2 linked regions of the Homo sapiens genome follow. The protein of the gene in region 2 purifies or fractionates together with the protein of the main gene of each other region. This does not show direct contact. Each region holds a gene or a part of one and is shown on either strand. Other genes may lie near its edges. The genes, in order: KDM3A and RASSF6.

Evidence for each region.
Region 1: the proteins of RASSF6 (region 2) and KDM3A purify together in Homo sapiens (affinity purification with mass spectrometry; 3 studies listed by BioGRID and IntAct, with this or other methods). This does not show direct contact.

The regions. Positions count from the first base shown.
Region 1 is NC_000002.12:86,479,371-86,486,721, reverse strand, and holds part of KDM3A (lysine-specific demethylase 3A), read right to left. Parts: intron 6,556-7,351; coding exon 6,360-6,555; intron 4,793-6,359; coding exon 4,620-4,792; intron 4,265-4,619; coding exon 4,028-4,264; intron 2,736-4,027; coding exon 2,564-2,735; intron 1,781-2,563; coding exon 1,693-1,780; intron 994-1,692; coding exon 863-993; intron 1-862. UniProt on the Homo sapiens protein: Histone demethylase that specifically demethylates 'Lys-9' of histone H3, thereby playing a central role in histone code.
Region 2 is NC_000004.12:73,610,406-73,617,756, reverse strand, and holds part of RASSF6 (ras association domain-containing protein 6), read left to right. Parts: intron 1-1,820; coding exon of another isoform or gene 1,821-1,866; intron 1,867-4,513; exon of another isoform or gene 4,514-4,627; intron 4,628-5,927; coding exon of another isoform or gene 5,928-5,961; coding exon 5,962-6,026; intron 6,027-6,080; exon of another isoform or gene 6,081-7,351.

The sequences.
Region 1 (7,351 bases), on a different chromosome or scaffold from region 2:
TTTGGAGAACATAGCGAAGACAACAACAGACCTTGTCCTTTTTGAGAAAGACACCCACAGGTCTAAGGCTAGAAATGGAAAATGACATGGAAGTAATTATGGCAGGAAGAAATAAGTAATTTCCAGGAGGACTGGAAAAGTAGGGGCCAAATAGTAAAAATGAGTAAATAAAATTCACTGAAATATTCAAACAACTAGAACTGCATTCAACAATACATACTTCCTTCAAAATGGCCAACTCGAATCCAGCCCTAATTAAAGGCCATGTGTAAAACTGACGAAGATCTCAGTTATAATGATGATGAAAGAAAGCTCTGGTAAATGGAGAAACCAATCTTTATCCCAGGCATCCTCCTTGTTAGACAGTGAGTATTGAGTCATGTCAAAAGAATAAAAGTCCAACTCAAAGGGTACTTTGAATCCTAAGTAACTAACTTCTACTCAACAACACAGAACACTGCATTTAATTGTAGCAGATGTTAAGACAGCTAGAATGCCAGCAGATTGACCTAAATGTCCGAACACTGAAATCACTAATAAAAGTACATTCTCTCAATGATGTATCACACACCATTAAAAGTCATCTAAAGACTATTAAGTAACATGTAAAGATTTTACAATGTAAAATTAGGTACAGTAAAGGGAAAAACACAAAATTGCATATGCCCTACAACTGCAACTATGAAAAGAAACACACAAACATGTGGCCAGGGAACGAAAGGAAATATGTAAAAATGAAAGCTGTGGCTGTATTACGCATTAGGATTATGGGTGTTTTCCACCTCTCCCTCCCACAAAATCAATTTTCCAAACATTTTGAATTGTTTTATTTCCATTTTAAAGTTAGCCATCTCCTCCTTACCATAAGCATTATACATCTTGGGGCCCAGATCTGGCCGAACAAAGTAGTTTGGCAGCCTAGAGGCCAAATTCAGTTTGCCATCTCGCCTTGTGTACTCGGGCAGTGGAATGTTGGCCATCAGATCATCAAACCTAGAACAACAGAACCAGGAATTTGCAAAGTTAGATTGCTTTTCTAATTCATTATTGTGTAACCTGTTTTGTTCCTTCTACACCAAAAGGAACAAATCCATCTGTGATCATGCAGACTGACAGCCATCAAATATTTAAGATGAGAAGTACAGCAGTTACAAAGATGTCTTCTCTCTCTCCTACAACACACCAATGTGTCAAAATCAGCTGTAACCGTTCAGACAAAAGATCTCAGCAATAAATTCTAGACAAAAAGTTATTCTTAGAGATATATCATTGATTAGTTGTGACACCCTTTTCAAAGTTTCAAGCTCAGTCAGGAAAATAGATCTACCCAGTAGATGTCTTCTTGTCTAACTCAGTGCTGTGACTACATTGTCCTGACCCTGACAGGTCAGATTCCACAACTGCCTCCAAATCAGCCTTGTAAGAAAAAGTGAGCCTCTTCTCTAGCAGGGCCTACCATGGAAAATCTGTGGTGTTCCATTAGTCAGCCAGGCCTAAAAGCCAATCACTTCTTCATCTCATCTAAAAATAAACATGCCTCCAATGACTACAGACTAGAAATGAAAAATCAGTGGCAGTATAATTACAGAACTTTTGTTATTTTCTTGAAAACTGTTTTCTCACTACCTCAAAAAAGAATTTATCCTACCAAGTGAAGGACAGAATCATCTCTCCCCACCTTCATAATCATACCTGGAAGGCATCATATCTCTAAAATCTTCTCCTGGTGGCCAGTCCTTAAGTTTCAACACCATTGGTTCTTTTTCATTTTTCAAACGATCTGAAAGGTAAACAGAATGAACTATTACTATTTATAATTCAGAAACAGACCAAAATAAATGACAAATTAGCATTTTATGCCTCAACAATACAAATAAAATATGTCTCTGCAAAATTTTCATAACCTGATAAATTTAGTATACAAATATTACTTTTCCTTAATTTTCCCCTCCTACCAACTATCCACCATTTTATTTCTGCAGTGTAAAAAAATCCATTTGTACCCAGGAGGCAGCAAGGTGCAGCAAAATAAAGATCACCAACTAATGGATCTGTGTCAGGGCCTTGTCTTTCCTAGAAGCTTATTAAGCTGCTACTCATTCTTGGGAGATTCAGCCGCTCCCTTTTGCCCACTGCATGTAGGTGGTATTTCAACAGCTGTCATCGATCCAATCTGCTCCTCCTCTACAGTGTTCCAGAAGAAGTGAGCAGCATCCCAACTAACCAACAGCAATGCACGTCAACCATCAAGGGTCACAGGTGTTTAGTAAACCCATTTTTCTGAGGCCAGCATGCAACAGAAATTACTTATTCTGCTCAGAGAGAGAGACTGACCCTATCTGATGTTCTGTCCAGGGACAACAAAGACCAACAGAACAGGTAATAATGCCTCAGTGTTTAAAAGCATAAACATTGTAACAAGGAAGGGGAGGAGAGACGTTAATTTTAAACTCCAAAATCCTGGAAAATGCTGCGGCTGCCACTGATGGGTCTCAGACTCCTGCCATTCCTGTGTCCCCTCCTTTCACATCCCCAACCCCCTTAAAAGATCTTTCATACATACTTGGAACATCTTCAAATCCATCCCAGAAGTCTCCTACTGTGGCTCCTGTGATGATTTCATTGGTCCTACAATTAACTAGGTCTACTTCCTGCTCACCAAACTCTTTCCTGAAGGATTCAGGTTTCCAAAGTTCAGAGTTCAATTTATGATGCACTCCAGACACCATCACTGGCTAAATGAAGAGAAGGAAAACTTTAGTCTGAACTCTGCCAGCTCTGTCCCCACTCCCGAAGGCAGTCCCTCTTCACACTGCTATTGGTATATTTCCATGGAGCTGGTGCTCCGTCTCAGATGGTGATGTGACAGTTTCGGCTTAGTTCTCTGAGCTCCCAAAGCACCTCCAACCTTCACCATTCATCTGCTACACACCCTTGCTCTCAAACTACATGGGTAAGCATCTAGGAGAAAGGATCACCTCTCCTAGTAAGATCTCATTACTTACAGCAAGACGGACTGTGAAGAAGACAAGCGCTGGAAGGAGTGTCCAGTGACACCAGTCACCAGTGAAACAGGGTGACTGACCCCACCGTACTTGAGCCTGTTATTGCCAAGCAGGAATATGGCCTGTGACACCCCTCACTACTACTGGCTGTGTGAGGGTGCCAAATCTTTTGGCCGTCTAAGACAACCCAGAAGCTCTAACCTTTATGTGAAATAGTCTAACATTAAAATATTGACAAGCAAGAAAGAAAGCCTGCCGATAAACTGTATTCAGCCCATCATTTTGTTTCTTGTCTATATATGATTAAATGAGCAAATCCTATTAGTACACTGGATGGAGAAAAACATTTTGGAAATTTATTTTTGGTTAAACACTCACATCTTTCTGTTTGGCAATTCTCCCAAATTCTTGTCCAAGAGCAGAGTGTTCCTTTAGCAAAGACCCTATCTGGCCAAACAGAGAAGCCAGAGATCCAGAAAACAGAACCAAAACAAGAAAGCACAGAAGCAGGCCTAGAAATTCTCCTAAAGATATTAACCGGCACTTAAGATCCAACAACACTGCCCTTTGAAGCAGGCACCTGGGGACTATGTGACACCACGCGGCCCTAGCCCACCTAGAACTGCCTTCAGCACAGGCTTTTCATTCAGGTAAGAGGGGTGCATGATTTTGTAGCACATTTTGTCTGATCTCCCAAATCCCATCAGCCTGTAGTCACACCCTCACTTCCTCTGCTGAAGTTTACCATAGGAATCACCAAGCCTGGATGCCCTCGTCAAAAACCCAACAGGGACTGGTAGGAAGCAACAAAAACCTGACTGGAAAAGTCCAGCTTAGGACCATCTGCTTTAAAAAGTAAGACCCATGGCCACATCCTGACCTGATTATATTCACCTGAAACAATAAAGAATAAAACAGGAGGTGAAGGAGGGGGAAAGCCTGGGGTGGGGTTGTCAGAAGTCTGCTAAAGGAACTGAGAAGGGGGTTCTGAATAGGGCAGGAGGATGGGAGGCCTACATTACCTGCCCTTGTTTCCAGCACTCCCTAAACACATTCCAGTTGCTCTTATTGTTGGGGTCTTGCAAGCACAGCAAGCGATTATCACAAAGCCAATAGTGAGGAGTGTCAAAGCCCAGAATGCTGGGCTTGATGGTTAGTCCTTGAGGCCTCTTAGATAAATCAGAAGTCGTCTTATTTTGCACCAAAGAGGCAAAGATGTCATCAAGGATTTTTGGTGTATTCTTGAGTCCATTTTCTGTCTGAATTGGAGAAAGAACAAAAGTCTCAAATATGTCATTCCCTTACCATCAAGAAACTCCATTCCCATAATGAGTATAGATTACATATCCAGAAGATTCCAAGCCAGGACCCCCAGGCAAAAAGGTACGTCCCCTGTCCCCACTTGACAACTCATAGAAGTGAGGTAACAGGAGAAAGTGGCCCAGCTCAGAACTATAGTCCCATAAAACCCATCCTCCAGTGACTCAGCCTTCTGAACCCACAAAGGTAAGTATGTGATTCAGTCTCCTTTCTACTTTCAGTTCCAACTTCTCTACTCTCTTCCTGTTCTGTCTTCAACTTTAAAACATGGAATACCAACAAACAAACACATACCTTTCCTGTAGAAGAATTCAAGAGATTCCGGAGGAAACCAGAATTGTTGTTGCTTACGGGTGTCAAAATTGTGCTGTTAAACGTATGGAGGACTGTGCTGGATTTGCTTAAAGGTGGGAGGGGTGGAAGGCATTTGATTTCATTCTTTAAAATTGGCATTGTTGGTTGTTTTTCTAAAATAAAACCAAAACATCCAGATGAAAAAACATTCTGAAAGGCAAATCCCTTATTAGTATTCTACTAGCAGAATTACTTTAGAACTTGCTTTCTATTTACTGAAACAAAAAAAATACTTTAGGGAGTAAGTATGAATGATATGATTTACTTAGACGATTCCTCACTGATGTTAAAAACAATAACTATCCAGTACAATGGAATTTTGTAAATTGACCTTTGTATCTAGCAACCCTGACAAATGTTTAGTAAATGTAGATTCTTTTGGATTTTTTGCATGTACTGTCTACAAATATTGGCAGCATTCTCTTTACACATTTTTTTTCCCTGAATGCACTGACCAGGACTTCCAGTACAATGCTTAATAAAGAGTGAAAACAGATATCCTTTGTCTTGTTCTTGAACACAGAAACTGTTTAAAAAAAAAAAAACAAAACCAAACAAACAAAAACCTCAAAGACCAGCTTGGCCAACATGGCAAAACCCCACTTCTACTAAAAATACAAATGTTAGCAGGGCGTGGTGGCAGGCGTCTATAATCCTAGCTATTTAGGAGGCTGAGGCAGGACAATGGCTTGAACCTGGGAGGCAGAGTGCAGTGTTGCAGTGAGCCAAGATCATGCCACTGCACTCCAGCCTGGCTGGACAGAGCAAGATTCCGTCTCAAAAAAACTCAAAACAAATTTTTAAAAAAATTCAACGACTATTTATGATGTCTCCAGTCTTGTTTTTTGGTTTAAACTCTTGATTAAGAATGTTCTTAATTTAAGAAGTTTTTTGTAAATCATTAACAGGTACTGAATTTTACTTAATGTTTTCCTGCATCTTGTCCCATGATTCTTCTACATTTTTGAATGTCAGACTGTATCTTCATTTCTGGAAAAACCTTGAAAAACTTGAATTCTTTTCCGGCCACTTGCTAATTGTCTTACTTCGGCTCAAATGAGCTGGTTTCTATATGCTTCAGCTTCCTCATCAGTAATACAGAAATAATGAGCAGTATTGATGATTGGGCATCACAGAATTACATCACATGTAAAGAGAGGGCCTGGACCACAACAGGAGTTTGAATATTCCTTTTCCTCTTTCTAAGGTATGTATAAACTCACCAGCTGTGCTCTTGCCAGCTTTTCAAATTATTTTTTTCTACAACAGTCATCTTAGACTTAATTTATGAGTTCTTTTAAGAGCTCCTTATCACATTTTTAAAGCTATATAAAGGTTTTTCCAGAAATTCAGATGTAGTCTAACATTCAAATATTCCTTCATTTACAGTGTCAAATTTGATTCATTAAAATTTTGCTCCAGATCTTTGCATGAAAGAAGTGGCCTGCAATTCTTCTCTTCTGTAACACAGCCAGAAGGTGGAAGTCCCTAAATTTTAATGCAGCAAAATTTCTCCTCTTTGGTGCTGCATTTCAAAAACACTTTCATTTGTGGCAGGTTCCAGGATGACTCCAGAGAAGCACTTTCCATTCCACACGACTTCTAACCACTGTTCTCTCAAGTCCTTCCACGAATGGACTAAAATACTCAAGAACAAACACAAAAGCAGGAAACACTCACCCTTGTTTTCCTTGTTGACATTCCCGCTGGTTAGGTCGGCCAGCCAGTTTAGAGGAGATGTGCTGGCTGGACAGGCAGGCTTCATGCTGCCGGCTGGCTTGGAGGCTGCTTCCCCACCCACAGCTGCTGGCTCCAACACTGAGGGATTCTGCTGGAGCACTGCACCAAGAGTCGGTTTTTCTCCAGCTAAAGAAGTCTGTGTTAAGCATTAAAGGACGATTTTACATAAGCTGAAGAATGACAGCTTCCTTTTCTTTTCTTCTCTCCTAATAGCCGACCAACAAGTAAGATAAATATCCAGAACAAAACCACCTAATAGTTAGCCCTGGGTATCCCCACAGCTGCAGTAATCCCGCACTAGTAGAGAATAACTAAAAGGTAGGAGAGATGTCAGCAACTTAAACACAGCAAGGTATTACCCCCCGCACCCTTTCACCAGCCCCTGCTGGTACATATCCCTATTACTCTATGTACCATGCTGGTTTAAAATGACCAGTTTGTGCCTGTCTCCCCTATGAACTCATCCCAGAATTCAGGATAGGCACAGAAAACATGGTTAAAAACGAATAAATGACGCAGGCAGGAAAGGTAAAGCGGTGATTTCAGAAGGAAATGGGATGCAGAGAAAGAGAAAATGCTATTTTGACTTAGCTTTAAAAATGTGATGAGCTCTTAAAAGAACCCATAAATTAAATCTAAGATGACTGCTGTAGAAGAAAATAATTTTAAAAACTGGCAAGAGTGAGTTTATACATACATAAGAAGGAGGAAAAAAAATATTCAAACCCCTGTTGTGGTCCAGGCCCTCTCTTTACATGTGATGTAATTCTGTGATGCCCAATCATCAATATTGCTTCTTATTTCTATATTACTGATGAGGAAGCTGAAGCACATAGAAACCAGCTCACTTCAGCCAAAGTAACACAACTAGCACGTGGAAGGAAAAGAACTCAAATTCAGTTCTGACTCCAAATATTACAAGTCTTCTGCTC
Region 2 (7,351 bases):
TTATAGTGATTTCATCACTTTCATAACATAATCTCAACAACCAAACTTAACTAATACCACTGCTTTCAGGAGTAGAACATGAAGTGTCTCCTATTTAAGTAATAAGGATGTTAACTTAAAGGAAAACTTCATCATCACCTAGAGCCTAGTAAAGGAGCTTAAGAGGAGAGAGTGTCGATTCTTTTGCAGCAAATATACAAACAGGAAAAATGAGTCGTGATCTTTGTGACGTCAGCCTAAGAATTTCTACTGGGAAGCTCAGGTGAAGCAGAAAATTTTTGAGTTCCACCACACCAGTAATTCCAGAAGATGCTGTCGGCAGACTGAGCAGCGCCTCCCAGACCCAGTGGTGGCAAGATGCCTTAAGTGCCTTAATACAAATTTGCTTCTCTGACCGTTTCTGCTTTCTTTATCTCCCTGAGGGCACCTTGAGCAGAATAAAATGCATGGCATTAGTACCATGTAAATATGCAATAGAACAGTAAAGTTTTGGCATTTCCAATTAGATTCCACTTGAACTGAGGGCAGTGGCATGCTCACATAGAAGTGTGTTTGATTCATATTCTGCTTAGTCCTCTCTTAGATTCAATGATTATAATACATTATTTCTATCTCAAAACCAACAATCACTGACTGCAACCAATATTACTTAATTAAGTGATAGTTTGTATATATGCCAACTCTTGACCTTTACTGTCTCTGCAAATAAAGCACATTTTAAGAAAAAGTATGGAGCCAAATGTTTCCCAGAAACCATCACTCTGTTAACTCTTTTCCTTTTTTGAGAGAACTAGATACTGGATGGAATTATAGATGCTTTGTCTCATTTTCTTGAAGTGATGTAATTGCATATAACTCTGCTCTTCTCTACTCCAAGGTTCCAGGTCATAACTTTGAGAAAACAGTTTCGTTTTGGAGATGAATACATAATTGTAACTTTCTATTGCTTCTTCAAGCTGAAACAATATTTTATTAAAAAGACTCTCCGTGTGTACAGCCCTTAACATACTCTTATCTCATAATTGAAATACACACTTGCTATTCTAGTGTGATACTTTCTGTTCTTTTTTTAAGTAGCTTTTACTGGGGACGTGGGTGAGAGAGATGTAACATATATTCCTTGTCTATGATTTAGACAGTACATACAAAATAAAAAAAGAAATAATTATCACACATAATCTCTTAGCTCTTAATTTTACCATTAATATTATAATATACCTCTCTGTATGTTGGATGTATTCAATATTTTGTGTATGTTTTATCTATATGCCTGCATATATTCACTCACTTTAGAAGACACAAAAATGAAATAGCAATAATTCTGTCCTAAAGGACCTAGTAATCAAATTAAGTAAAATAAAATATGGTTAGAGAGAGAAAGCAGTAAGTAATTAGAAAGCTACAGAAAATTTCCTGTGAAATTTCAGAAGCAAGAGAAATTGTCTTTGGCTGGGAAATACAGGGAAGTTAGCACCTGTATATATATGTATAGATAGATAGATAGATAGATAGATAGATAGATAGATAGATAGATATAGATATATGTATATATATTAGTTCTTTGTAAAATCATTAGCATTATGACACTTTGTGCACCTTGTGGCCTCAGAAATAAGAGGCTATAGATATAGATACAGGCTATACTTTCTGTGCCTAGCACGGTAGCAGGTGCAGAGAAGGAACTCGTGAAATATTTGTTGAATTTACAAACGAGTGAACCCAATTTTCCACTTTTAGATATGTAACCATTTAATTAACTCATGGTTGGATAACAGGAAGTTACTTTAAATGACTGACCCATTTGATTTAATTTGTACTAGAATTCACTTCCTGTCCTCTGGCCTCATTCTGGTCACAAGGCAACTGGTAAGTCCAGGCAAGCCCACCTCTAGGCAGGAATGCAGAGCAGGGGGAGGTGAACCACGTTCCAGCATTGCTGGAACGCTAATGCTGCCCAACACTGCCTCCTCAGGCTCCATCCAGATCTCATTGGCTTGTTCAGACCAATTCTACCTCTCCTATACTTCTAGTGCTGTTGATTTCTCCAGGACTTAATTGCTGACCTATCTAATTCCCTGTTTCTCCAGCTTCATTGTTTCTGGACAAAATGAAAAAGTAAATAACCAAACTTATTAAATAATGATCTTATTTTACACACAATCTAAGTCAATAATCTCTGGCCCCAGGGCCTACATAGATTTGTAACAACCATCTTCCTCCTCAAGTTGTAGTTTATTATGTTCTACCAAAATTACTGAACATCCCAAGTAAGACCTCCAGGCTTCTAGAACTGTAATTTTTTCTTTCTTCATAAATTCTCTCCCTCGTTGCTATTCATGACTTCTCTGTTATTCTCCTCTTAAGTCCTTGAGAAAATTTGCTCAGATGCTTATATCTACCAAGTCTTTATAATTTAGGAGATTTTCACAAGGGCCCTAGCAGGTTTTAGTTTGCTATGAATCATGGTGAATGGGAATGGGAAGATGAGGATGAAAAACTATTTGAATTCATAGATCTATGCCTCACTTCATTGTTTTTGTTTGTTTATTTGTTTTGCTCTTTTTTTTTTTTTTTTTTTGAGACAGAGTCACACTCTATCACCCAGGCTGGAGTGCAGGGACACAATCTTGGCTCACTGCAACCTCCATCTCCCAGGTTTAAGTGATTCTCGGGCCTCAGCCTCCCAGGTAGCTGGGATTAAAAGTGTGTTCCACCACACCCGGCTAACTTTTGTATTTCACTTCACTGTTAATACTAACAATGGGACTTTTACCAAAGCATGTTCTTACCTTTCAGGTATTTAAACTGTTTGAATATTTTATTTACCCAATTTTTAGATCAGACATGAATAATATTATTTCCTACTCAAATATTATGTGCTGCCTATGAATGAAAATTTTATCCTGTTTTTATTTTCTTACATTAAATTATATTCAACTTTCTTCCTTCCTAAAGTCAGAAAATAATATAAGAGCCTTGGAAACCCTTTCATCACATCTTCTGAAGTCTTCTGAAGCTGGCTATGAGTTACCTCAGCATAGATCAACAGTGTGTCACTATAACTACATTGCAATTATTTGCCCTCTTTAATGATATCTTTGATATTTCTTATGAATGCAAATAAAGAGTGAGCCAGTTGGAAAGCTACTGCAATGATTTTTCAGTCCATCACTGCCAATTTTCACTTTGTAATTATAAGAAGCTGCTATCAGTGGTTCTTCAGTTCCAAATATCCCCAGTGTCTGGTGAGGGAAGCAAGCTGTCTGGTTCTTAGATGGTCTTTTTGCTATGCTCTGACATGGTGGAAGGGTCCAGGCAGCTTCTGGGGTCTCTTTTATAAGGGCACTAACCACATTCATGAAGTCTCCACCATCATGAACTAATCACCTCCTAAAGTCCTCACCTGTTAATACTATTGCATTGGGGGTTAAGTTTCAACATCTAGGTTTTGTGGGGACACAAACATTCAGACCACAACAGAGGGAGGCCCTCTAGTAGGCTGACGCAATAATCCAGGAAAAAGATGATGGTGGCTTGGCTTAGGGTAGTAGCAGTGGAAATCAAAGCTTTCGAATTTGGAATATGTTAGTGGTACAGTGAATAGGACTTACTTTTGGATTGAATTTGGCTTATGATGAAAGAGGGAAAAAATGAGACTAAATATTAGTTTTGATGCCTAGATGGGAAAGAATTGTGGAGGAGGAAATTTTAGAGCATGGGAGAAAGTCAGTGGTTCTTTTTCAGCCATGTAGATATCGAGATGCCTGGTACACATCTAAGTAGAGATTAGGTAGGTGGTGACATGCGTCTGGAGCTCAACAGAGATTATGGGATGGAGACAGATTCGATTACCTGGAAGAATGTATAGATAGAGAAGAAAGGATGGCTGAGAATGGACACTCAAACAAGCCAGTATTTAGTGATCATACAAAGGAGGAATCAGCAAAGGAGACTAGTGTTGAGGCCTGTGAGATAGCAGGAAAATAGAGTGAGGTGATTGTTATTCATGGTTTGTCTCAAAAGCATCAAGAAGAAAGTGTTTTAAAAGGTAGGAAAATCAATCTTGTCAAATGTTGCTAAGAGGCCGAGAAATGAGGAGAGAAGTGAACTCTTTGGCAAGGTATAGGCTCTTGGAACATGGATGGAGAGGTGGAGGTAGGGCTAAATTAAAGGAATATATGATAAATAATCTGGACCCAGGAGGAAGAAGGAAGTGTTTGGACCCCAGGGTCATCACTGGGGGATTTCAGTCGGGGACATTAATAACCCTTTTGGTGGGTTATTAGAATGACAAAATCCAGGGGCAAAACTCAAGTTTGAGAAGCTGGAGGAACCTGTGTAACCTGTATAACCAAGTTGCCCAGACCAAATCCTGTGAATAAGTAACTGGGATTCACTGGGCTCATGGAGCATGTTGTGTCTGTGTGCCCAAGGCAGCATAAAATGCCCATGTGGCTTCTGACGTATAGAATTACTTTGCCTGGTGACTAAGCTTCTGTGTCTCTGGTATGAGTCCTCCAGGTGTCCTGCATGAGACCTGCCAATGATGTGCTATCAGAGGATGCCATTTCCAACTAGAGAAGCACAATTCTTTGAGCAAGAAGATAGCAATAGAAAAGAAAGTAAGGTATAAATCAATAATGACAATACAAGGTAGAAAGCAGAATGATGACAACAGTGTGGATTCAAAGGACATGGGGAGACTTTAAGATTTCCCACTGGGGACTAAAAGGGACCAGATATCTGGACCTGCAGTGAGGAGGGCCCTCTGCTGCCAGGGGAAATGGGTGAGAAAAGACTCAATGACATGAAATTTCATTAGATTACAAGGCCTGGTGTTGAAGAAATGTTTCAATTTGGAGCCTGGAAAGGTAGGTTTGAGTGGAATTGAAGAAAACTTGAGAGTCAGGTTAAGGGACTTGGGCTGTATTTATTAAGAAAGATACCAAGATGGTTTGTGACCAAATAGGTGATGGGATGATCGGAATGATAAAAGCCTAAAATGAGACTCCAGCCAAGCATTCACCCTGAAAACTGTAACAAAGTACCTAGTGAGTTTAACAACATGCTATAAAGAAAAATATGCATCAGAGATTTTATGAGAATAGAAGAATAGCTTTCCTGTTTTCTTTTTTTCCTGGTACTCTGAAGAGTTAGGACATATAATTTCCTAATTTTTATTCATCTTACCCAACCCAAATAACCAGATTTGAAAGGAAAAGGAGGAAATCCACCCCCTTATACACAACGTTTTTTTTTTTAAAAAAAAAAAAAAAAGAAAACTGAACTCTCTCATCCATCTTTTTTATTCTGGCTCTATCCCCTAAAATCTTATAGACTTGGAGCCATGATAACTGAATATTCAATTTTTGCAAAATGGAATGAACAGAAAATATTATACTTTACATCTCTGGTCACACCCTAATGCCATTTATATGAACATATAAAGGAGGAGATTATTCACATCTGACCACAGTTTCCAGAGCTTGAAGGAGACTTGAAAAATATTACATCATACCTAATCAACTCTTCAAGTCAGAGCTTGATTTTAGCTGCCTAGAATTGCAGTTGTCTTCTGCTGATTGGGGCAAGGTTCAGCCAGTTTGGGTGAGTTATTGCAATAGAAGGAATATGCTCCCTTATACAGAATTATATAAATCAATAGAGTCATATTTATTTTGCTAGAAATATATCTAAAACAGACTTACCAAATTGTTCAATCCATCCGTGTCTGGAGTTACTGTTTCTGTAGTTTTTCATTTACATAATACATTTTTCTGTATTTTTGCTCACACATGACATACTACTTAAAAACTTTCTAAAACCTTCTTATACTCTAGAGACACAACAAAACACTCAACTTAAATCAGAAACTAATTTTTTAATGCATTATAGGAACAAATCATTAATATTATTCTCATGTTTAGGATATCCTCAGACCATCTCAAAAAGGAGGAAAAGATGACTATGATGGCTCACCAGTACCCCTCTTGGATCTTCATTAATGAGAAGACATTCATAACCAGGTAACCACACACCTTATATTATACATTGTCCTACTCACCAGTCATTTGTGGAATATACCGTCAAAGTTTTCTAAGCATGATGTATGGTCAACAAGATCAATAATATGAATCATCAGTAGAGATACTAGATAAGAAGTTGGAAAAGTATGTTCCTAAAGACTCTCAAATTTACTCTCATGGAACAATCACTAATATTTTGTTTAACAGTGGTTTTACTTTATTAAAAGCAACATTTCTGTTTTAATAGTTGGGATAATATTGAAGAGCAGCATTAGGTGAAAGATCTAAGGCTTCTCATAAATGATAGTTCTAAAGAATTAACCCCAGGGCCAAAAACATTATGTCCTGTCCTAACCTCTCCATCCCTTGCTCCTCATGACACTTTATTTTTACTGGTTCCCTCTTGACATTAGATTATGCAATATATGGCCAACATCCACAGCTTTTCTTGTACGCAGCAAACAGTATCTCATATTGCTTTGGGAACAATAGAGTAAGGGCTTAAAAGCTATAAGAGTAGAGATGAAAACTGAAACTGGCCAAGCTACAGCAGAGGCTGGGGGCTGAGAGGAGATGAAATCATGAAAAAATAAGTGGTACTGAAACATGACCCAAATCTTATGGGGGGTGGAAAAAGGAAAAAAGCCAAATAAATGACAGAGAGAAGGAGAAGTGAATGATGCAGGGTTGGGCAGTAGGAAAGTGAAGGAAACAAATATGATCAAATATGGAAATAAAGCCACAGCTGAAAGATAAGGATGAACTATAAGCAGTGGGAAAAAGACCTGATGCAAAGGATAAAGGATCCACTGACTTATTCCTCAAACACTTACTGATTACTCACTGTGAGCAGGTGTATTTTTGGACCCTGAGCATTCAGTAATGAACCAAACAAAACCCTTACTCTCATGGAGTTACATCATAAAGTCGGGATGCAGTCAATACATAAGATAAATGCTGAGGAAATGGAGTAAAGAGTGCTAGAGATAGAGAGCGGAAAGGGTTCTGATTGCATATAACCTAGTTCCTTCCTCAGTGAGCGGGAAGCACTGGAGGAAAAGCCTGCAGAAAGGGAGAAAGCAAGCCATGCAGCTTTCGCAGGTATTCCAGGCAAGGGGAATGGCAACTCCACAGCCCTAAGGCAGATGCATATTTGTAAGGGTCAGGGAGAACAGTGTGGGGAAATGGAAGTAGAAAGACAGCAGGAGAAGAAGCCAAATGGGCTCAGAACATGTAGGGTTTGATAGGCCATTATGAGGCTTGATCTTTCCCACTAAATAAGATGAGAAGCTGTGGAAGGATATTGAGCACATGAGTGGCAATAT